2 linked regions of the Homo sapiens genome follow. The protein of the gene in region 1 interacts with the protein of each later gene in a pairwise test. Each region holds a gene or a part of one and is shown in the gene's direction. Other genes may lie near its edges.

What was found.
Region 2: the proteins of BEND7 (region 1) and VCX2 interact in a two-hybrid assay, tested with the Homo sapiens proteins (one large-scale study listed by BioGRID).

Annotation. Positions count from the first base shown.
Region 1 is NC_000010.11:13,501,440-13,505,258, reverse strand, and holds part of BEND7 (BEN domain-containing protein 7), read left to right. Parts: intron 1-1,665; exon of another isoform or gene 1,666-2,398; intron 2,399-3,819.
Region 2 is NC_000023.11:8,169,171-8,172,703, reverse strand, and holds VCX2 (variable charge X-linked protein 2), read left to right. Parts: upstream 1-1,436; 5' UTR 1,437-1,597; intron 1,598-1,914; 5' UTR 1,915-2,060; coding exon 2,061-2,162; intron 2,163-2,354; coding exon 2,355-2,672; 3' UTR 2,673-2,760; downstream 2,761-3,533.

The DNA of each region.
Region 1 (3,819 bases):
AGGTGGTCACCAGGCAGCAGTTGTATAAAGCTGATGTCTGGATCGACCACACTGAGGAACCGGGAGTGCAGCGAATAGAACTGGAAACTGTCAAGGGTGACAGAGCCTTGCTTCTGGAATGAAAAACTCCCACTTATATTTAAAATGGATGCCAAGGCAACACAAAATGATGAGCATTCGCTGCACTCTCTCTCAGTTTGTTTGTTACCATCTTTTATCGTGATTACCTGTGAATAATCGTGTTCCACGTAGTGGATCCTTCCCTCCTAGCCAAGTTAAGGGCAACCTTGTGTGTTGACTTCTGTGTTGCCCTCACATGTATCAGATCCTGCAAGACTATGTGTCATAAATTCTTTGCGTAAAGGAACGTGATCTAGTAGAGTCTTGAAATTTAGTGAGGGGGAGAATCCAGCATACAATCTTTTTAGATCTTGTCCAAGGAGTATAGTTACTAAACTCCAAAGGATTTCAGGCTGCCAATAAGGTAGTCACGTGGCATGGATCCATTTTAGTAAGATTCCTTTGTGTTTGTTTTTCTGAAAAGGATTCAGCGTCTTGGAAAGAGATCAGGAAAAATGCACAGGTTTCCTTATAGCATCCTGTCTCGCTAGAGAGCTCGTTGCTCCAAAGAGCTTCCTTTTCCTGGTATCTATACCTGGAGAAGTCATTGACTAATGATAACTGGAAATACCAGTAGAAGTCAGTGAATGCTTCCAATCTCAATCTCCTGTATACTTTTCACCAATTTTTTTTTTTATCAAAGAACTTGGATTCCACTATGATAGAAGAAGCCTGTCTTCCGAAAAGGACTTCTAGAGCCACAAAGTGCTTGGTTAACACCTTGGTGATGGTGAAAATCCTGTGCCCCTCCTGGACTACCATGTGCCCCTCCCCGGGTTAGGGTTCAGACTCTTGCTTTAGGATTTAGGAAACCAGAGAATATTCAGTGGCTTGGCTAGTATCCAGTAGCAGGTGGGCGTAGTTAGGAGGCGAGACCAGGTGTGGGTGTAATAGCCCAGCCTGTCCTGTCCCACACTAACACTGCACCACACTCAACGAGCTTCTACGGCTCGGCCTGCTCATCTGCTCCCAGCACCCACTGTCCCCAGATTATTTAGGTTGACTCAGCTTCTTTGTCATTGTCACTTGGAGTCTTCAGGCCTCGTTTCTGATCCTCTGCCCCACCTGCCCCAAATGTGCAAGGAAACCTCTTTCTTCCTGTCTGCCAAAGCCTGTCACTCATCATTCCCTGCTGTGGAGTAGAGCCCCAGGACTCCCTCCTCCTAGGCAGCAGCTGCAGGGGTGACCTGCTCAGCTGCTTCTGCTGCTTTGGGTGAAGAGAGTGTGACTCAGTAAACCCCAGAGACCATTCCTGAACGTCCCGTCATCTCCCCTAAGAAACTTTCCACACTCTGCCCTTCTTCAACCTTCCCTGCCGACTCTCAGCTCACCTCTCAGCTCTCCTCTCAGCACAGACTTCTGCAGTTACTGCAGTTTTCTGTGTTCCATCCTTTTAGTTGTTGTTTGTTTGTTTGTTTGTTTGTTTTGAGATGGAGTCTCACCCTGTTGCCCAGGCTGGAGTGCAGTGGCACAACCTTGGCTCACTGCAACCTCCGCCTCCCAGGTTCAAGTGATTCTCCTGCCTCAGCCTCCGAGTAGCTGGAACTACAGGCGCGCGCTGCCACGCCCAGCTAACTTTTGTGTTTTTAGTAGAGACAGGCTTTCACCATGTTGGCCAGGCTGGTCTCAAATTCCAGATCTCGGGTGATCCACCCACGTCAGCCTCCCAAAGTGCTGGGATTACAGGTGTGAGCCACTGTGCCATCCTTTAAAGGATGTGTTCCATCCTTTAAAACATGCCACAGTGAGCTAGGCCGTGAGCTTACTTCCTCTGAGGAGGGACCTGCTTCTGGCCTTCTGCCCTCTTCCTTTCAGCACTGTTTCTTCCTCCTCAGTCCCCCGACGTCCTGATTTTTTGTGTATTTGTTTCGTTTTGTTTTGCCTTTGGGAGACATGTTTCTGCACACGGCAGGCGCAGCCCACCGCCAGAACCCCTCACACCTGCCACCTTCCTCCCTCATTGCCACCTGCAGCTTAGGATGCTGGTTGTCAAAATGAAAATACAAAGTTATGCAAAACTCAGGTTGTATTTTCAGCCATGTACTTTTCATAGGCATAAGTTCTGGAACTCTGAAACTGAGGTCATGACAAAGCAGATTTGCCCTCAGAAGGTTCCAGAATCCTTGTGACGCCTTCCTGTTGCTAATGGTAGCACTGTATCTATCCTAGCATTATATCTACAGAGCAGAGGCAGGACCTTTGGCAGGAGACACATCCCTTCTCCTGTGATGTGTCAGTTAGTGTAGAGAAGCAAGCTGGCATGGACTTGAGAGCCGGGGTGGGTATCTGCCCCATGTGGCCTGGCTATGGCTGCTCTGTTCAGGGAGCCTGGGGTCAGGGGTGGCGGCCACCAACCTGTGCCAGAGAAGGCTAGTCTCTGCATGGACTTCAGTGCAGGCATACCCGGCCTGATGGGGAGGGCTGTGGGTGGAAACCACACAGAAAAGATGCCTCCTCTTGCTTGAATTGTGGTGTTAACTAGCCGGGAACGTATGTGTCTGGTTGCTGAAATTAATACCGCATTTGCCTGTGGGCTTATCTTTCAGGATTCCTTTGGGACCTCTTCCAGACACACCCTGTTCCGTAGCCTCTCGAGAAAGTAGTAAATTTTGCTGACTCTGCGTTATTGAAATCTCGCTTGGTCGTTCATTCTCATAAAATCTGGAATATGATTTATTGTTTATATATTGTAATTTTCACAGGGGTTTGAAGTAGAAATAGTTTTATCTCAAATTAGAATATTTCTCCTCTCAAGCATATGCCAACAACACATAGCAATATTGTAAATTTGGAAATCTGTGTTATTTCCGTGTTCACTCATGTTCAATTAGACAGAATTAATATATTCTGTAATGTTTTTAGTATCATTTTTAAAAACTAAAGATATTTACTTCAAAATAGTGAACAGTAAATTCAAAATAAACTTCCTTATTTAGTAACATAACACATATATTAATAAGCTAAATATCTAACTGGAAAGCACAAAACGGCTAGGTTATTGTGCAGTTACCAGTTCTACAGAGAAACCTGGCTTATCCTAAGTGCAATCATTATGTTGATCCATATATATATATACATATCCTTATATATACATATATTGATCATTATAATTGATCCTAAGTGCAATCATTATATTGAATGTGCTGTGTGTATTTGTAGGAGCTGTATTTTTCTTAACAGATGCTGTCTGTTAGCCTTTTCTTTATCTTACAGTTTAAATTTCAAGCATTTATTAGAGTAACTGCATGAATGTTTACACACACATACCCTGGCCTAAGATTTTTTTTTTTTTTGAGACAGGGTCTGCCACTATCACCCAGGCTGAAGTGCAGTGGCACAATCTCGGCTCGCTGCAACCTCTGCCTCCGGGGCTCAAGCAGTCCTTCCACCTCAGCCTCCAAGTAGCTGGGACCACAGGCACACACCACCATGCTGGGCTAACTTTTGTACTTTTTGTAGAGACGGGGTTTCTCCATATTGCCCAGGCTGGTCGCAAACTCCTGAGCTCAAATGACCCTCCCATCTCAGCCTCCCGAAGGGCTGGGATTACACGTGTGAGCCACCATGCCCAACAGTGGCCTAAGATTTTATCTTTTGGGTTTGAGAAAAAAAAATTCATTTCTCTTCATCTTTATGAAGATACTGGCTGATGCACAGTTTAAGAAGATAGTGTGTTTGAAATAGCTCCTAACAGATATC
Region 2 (3,533 bases), on another chromosome or scaffold:
CATGTAATTAGCAACCTAAAGATAGCTAGAATTAGCCAGACCAGGTAATTGATTGCAGGAAGCTGAAGATAACTGGCCTATGCCAGGGAGTTCAATAACCATTTTCCTCAATGCAAAATTCCAACCTCATGTTAGAAATATTACCTAATATAGTAGATATCTACTTTATCCAAGTGAGTAATTAACTAGAGATAACTACATGAAGCCAGTACCTGGAATAAACAAATTCTTCTCAGTACTAGTTGAACAAACAACTAGCAATTACTAGGAAAACTGGTTGAACATAGAAAGTTTAGTAACCATTCGAGTCAATTCTGTATTCTTACTTTTTTAGGATTGTTGACTAGGTACTATGGATTTGGTAACTAGAGTTACCTGAGTAAGAGTTAAATACAGAATCCTCCATAAAACTGGAATAACTGGTTGAAGACAGAAGTATCACATTGCATTCTCCTCAGTATTTCTCATTTCTTGTTGGAATAATAAGTTGGTTCTGTCAATGGGTAGTGAGTACCTAGGTTATTACAAAGCAAGAAATAAGAAGAGATGACTAGAATAAATATTTGATACCAGAATGGTGAAAAAAACATTCTTTTCAAATAGAAACTCTAATTTCCTGTGTAATTAATGAGTTACAATTAGTTAGTACTGGAGATATCTATATGAGATGTGGACTTCATTTTTGGGGGGTGGTACATACTTAACAGATGAACTGCTGGGTCACATGGTAGATCTATTTTGATTTTCCAAGGAACCATTACACTGTTTTTTATAACGGCTGTACCAATTACACGTCTGTCAACAGCGTGTAACAGTGAGGTGATAGTTCATTGTGGTTTTCATTTGCATTCTCTGATTATTAACGATGTTGAGCACATTTTCATATACCTGTTGGCCAGTTGTGTGTTTTCCTTCTAGAAATGCCTATTCAAGTCCTTTGCCTATTTGTTAACCAGACTATTTATTTATTTGCTATTGAGCTGTGTGAGTTCTTTATATATTTTGGATATTAACTCATTATTAGATACATGGTTCGCAAATAGCTTCTCCCAAACCATAGCCTGCCTTTTCATTTTGTTGACTGTTGGCTGTGCAGAAGCTTTTAGTTTCCAGCCTGCTCACTTGCCCTATATATTTCAGCTTCCTAGACCCCCACATTGAGTCAATGTGTGAGCCAATTACTTAGAATAAACTGTATCATATATATAATTCATAAATACTACATGATAGTAAATATATATTTATGATATATAATATTACACACACACACACACACACACAATATCCTGTTGGTTTAGTTTCTCCTTCTCTGAGGAACCCAGCCTGATACCGAAACCCAGCCTGATACCGATACCCAGCTGAGCGAGTGTGTTTGCTGATCTTGACCTCTGGAAGCCAGTGCTTTAAACCATGAGAATGAAAAATTGTGAGGCACTATGTGGATGCTGGGAGAAGTATGTGAGATGGAAAAGTTGTTTCATGGCATCCAAGAAGTGAATGATCCTCAAGGTGTAGCAGAGGAATTTGTAGGAGAGAGGGATGATTGACGTCTTCGTATAGCCCTCCATCCATCCCAGTTAGCATGGAGGGATTTTAGATAGGTCATACAGAAACTGGGTAATGATGGCAGGTGTGGAGGAACAGAATGTACCACTGAATGGGAGGTCCGGGGGAAACATGTGGCGGAAATATCCTCCCGTGCCACGTGATCTGCCAAAATTGAACATGGGGAGTTTAGGAGGGGTGACATGTCAGTTTGGGAACTATCTTTAGGGGTGCTAACCCAAATCTCCCTTTCTCCAATTAGAGCACCCTGCCTTCCTCATTAGATGTCACCCCCCCCCCCCGCCCCCGACTTCATCCGCCATGTCCTGATGGTGCTTTGTGACGTATAAGGCCTTCCTTCCCGCCCAGGGCTACCATTGGCTGGGTAGTGGAGTGTTGACCAATCACAGCTCAGGGGCGTGATTGTCTCGTCCTGGGATCGCGAGAGGGGTATATACAGGGAGGCCAGGCAGCCTGGAGTTAGTCGACCGTTGCGAGACGTTGAGCTGCGGAAGATGAGTCCAAAGCCGAGAGCCTCGGGACCTCCGGCCAAGGCCACGGAGGCAGGAAAGAGGAAGTCCTCCTCTCAGCCGAGCCCCAGTGACCCGAAGAAGAAGGTGAGTGACCCTCCCAAGCTCCTCCTCGTCTTCCCCTCGCCTCCTTCCTCACAAGAAGCCTCTCCTGTCGTCACTTGGCAGAACCCCCCAACCCGGCCCCCACCGCTTCTGAGGACACGTCCCTGTTCCCAGCCTCCTCCATCCTCGTCCCTAAACCAGAGCCCTTCTGTGATCTCCCTGTTGTCCTTCCAGACTACCAAGGTGGCCAAGAAGGGAAAAGCAGTTCGTAGAGGGAGACGCGGGAAGAAAGGGGCTGCGACAAAGATGGCGGCCGTGACGGCACCTGAGGCGGAGAGCGCGCCAGCGGCACCCGGCCCCAGCGACCAGCCCAGCCAGGAGCTCCCTCAGCACGAGCTGCCGCCGGAGGAGCCAGTGAGCGAGGGGACCCAGCACGACCCCCTGAGTCAGGAGAGCGAGGTGGAAGAACCACTGAGTCAGGAGAGCGAGGTGGAAGAACCACTGACTGTGTGGATGGCCAGCTTTTCCCCTGTCTCCGAGAGCACCGACTAAGTTCAGGCCCAGCCGCCAGACCTCAGAGATCTCACCAGCGGGGTGCTTGCCATTCTGAAGATAATAAAATGAATGTGTTGCAAATTGATCTGAGTGACTCCGTGTTCTCTGATGGTGGGGAGGGAGGGAGGGAGGGGGGAAGAGGTGGTGTGTGGTGAGGGAGGGAGGGAGGAAGAGGTGGTGTGTGGGGAGGGAGGGAGGGAGGGAGGAAGAGGTGGTGTGTGGGGAGGGAGGGAGGGAGGAAGAGGTGGTGTGTGGGGAGGGAGGGAGGGAGGAAGAGGTGGTGTGTGGGGAGGGAGGGAGGGAGGGAGGAAGAGGTGGTGTGTGGGGAGGGAGGGAGGGAGGAAGAGGTGGTGTGTGGGGAGGGAGGGAGGAAGAGGTGGTGTGTGGGGAGGGAGGGAGGGAGGAAGAGGTGGTGTGTGGGGAGGGAGGGAGGAAGAGGTGGTGTGTGGGGAGGGAGGGAGGGAGGAAGAGGTGGTGTGTGGGGAGGGAGGGAGGGAGGAAGAGGTGGTGTGTGGGGAGGGAGGGAGGGAGGAAGAGGTGGTGTGTGGGGAGGGAGGGAGGAAGAGGTGGTGTGTGGGGAGGGAGGGAGGGAGGAAGAGGTGGTGTGTGGGGAGGGAGGGAGGGAGGAAGAGGTGGTGTGTGGGGAGGGAGGGAGGGAGGAAGAGGTGGTGTGTGGGGAGGGAGGGAGGGAGGAAGAGGTGGTGTGTGGGGAGGGAGGGAGGGAGGAAGAGGTGGTGTGTGGGGAGGGAGGGAGGGAGGAAGAGGTGGTGTGTGGGGAGGGAGGGAGGGAGGAAGAGGTGGTGTGTGGGGAGGGAGGGAGGGGGGAAGAGGAGGTGTGTGGGGAGGGAGGGAGGGAGG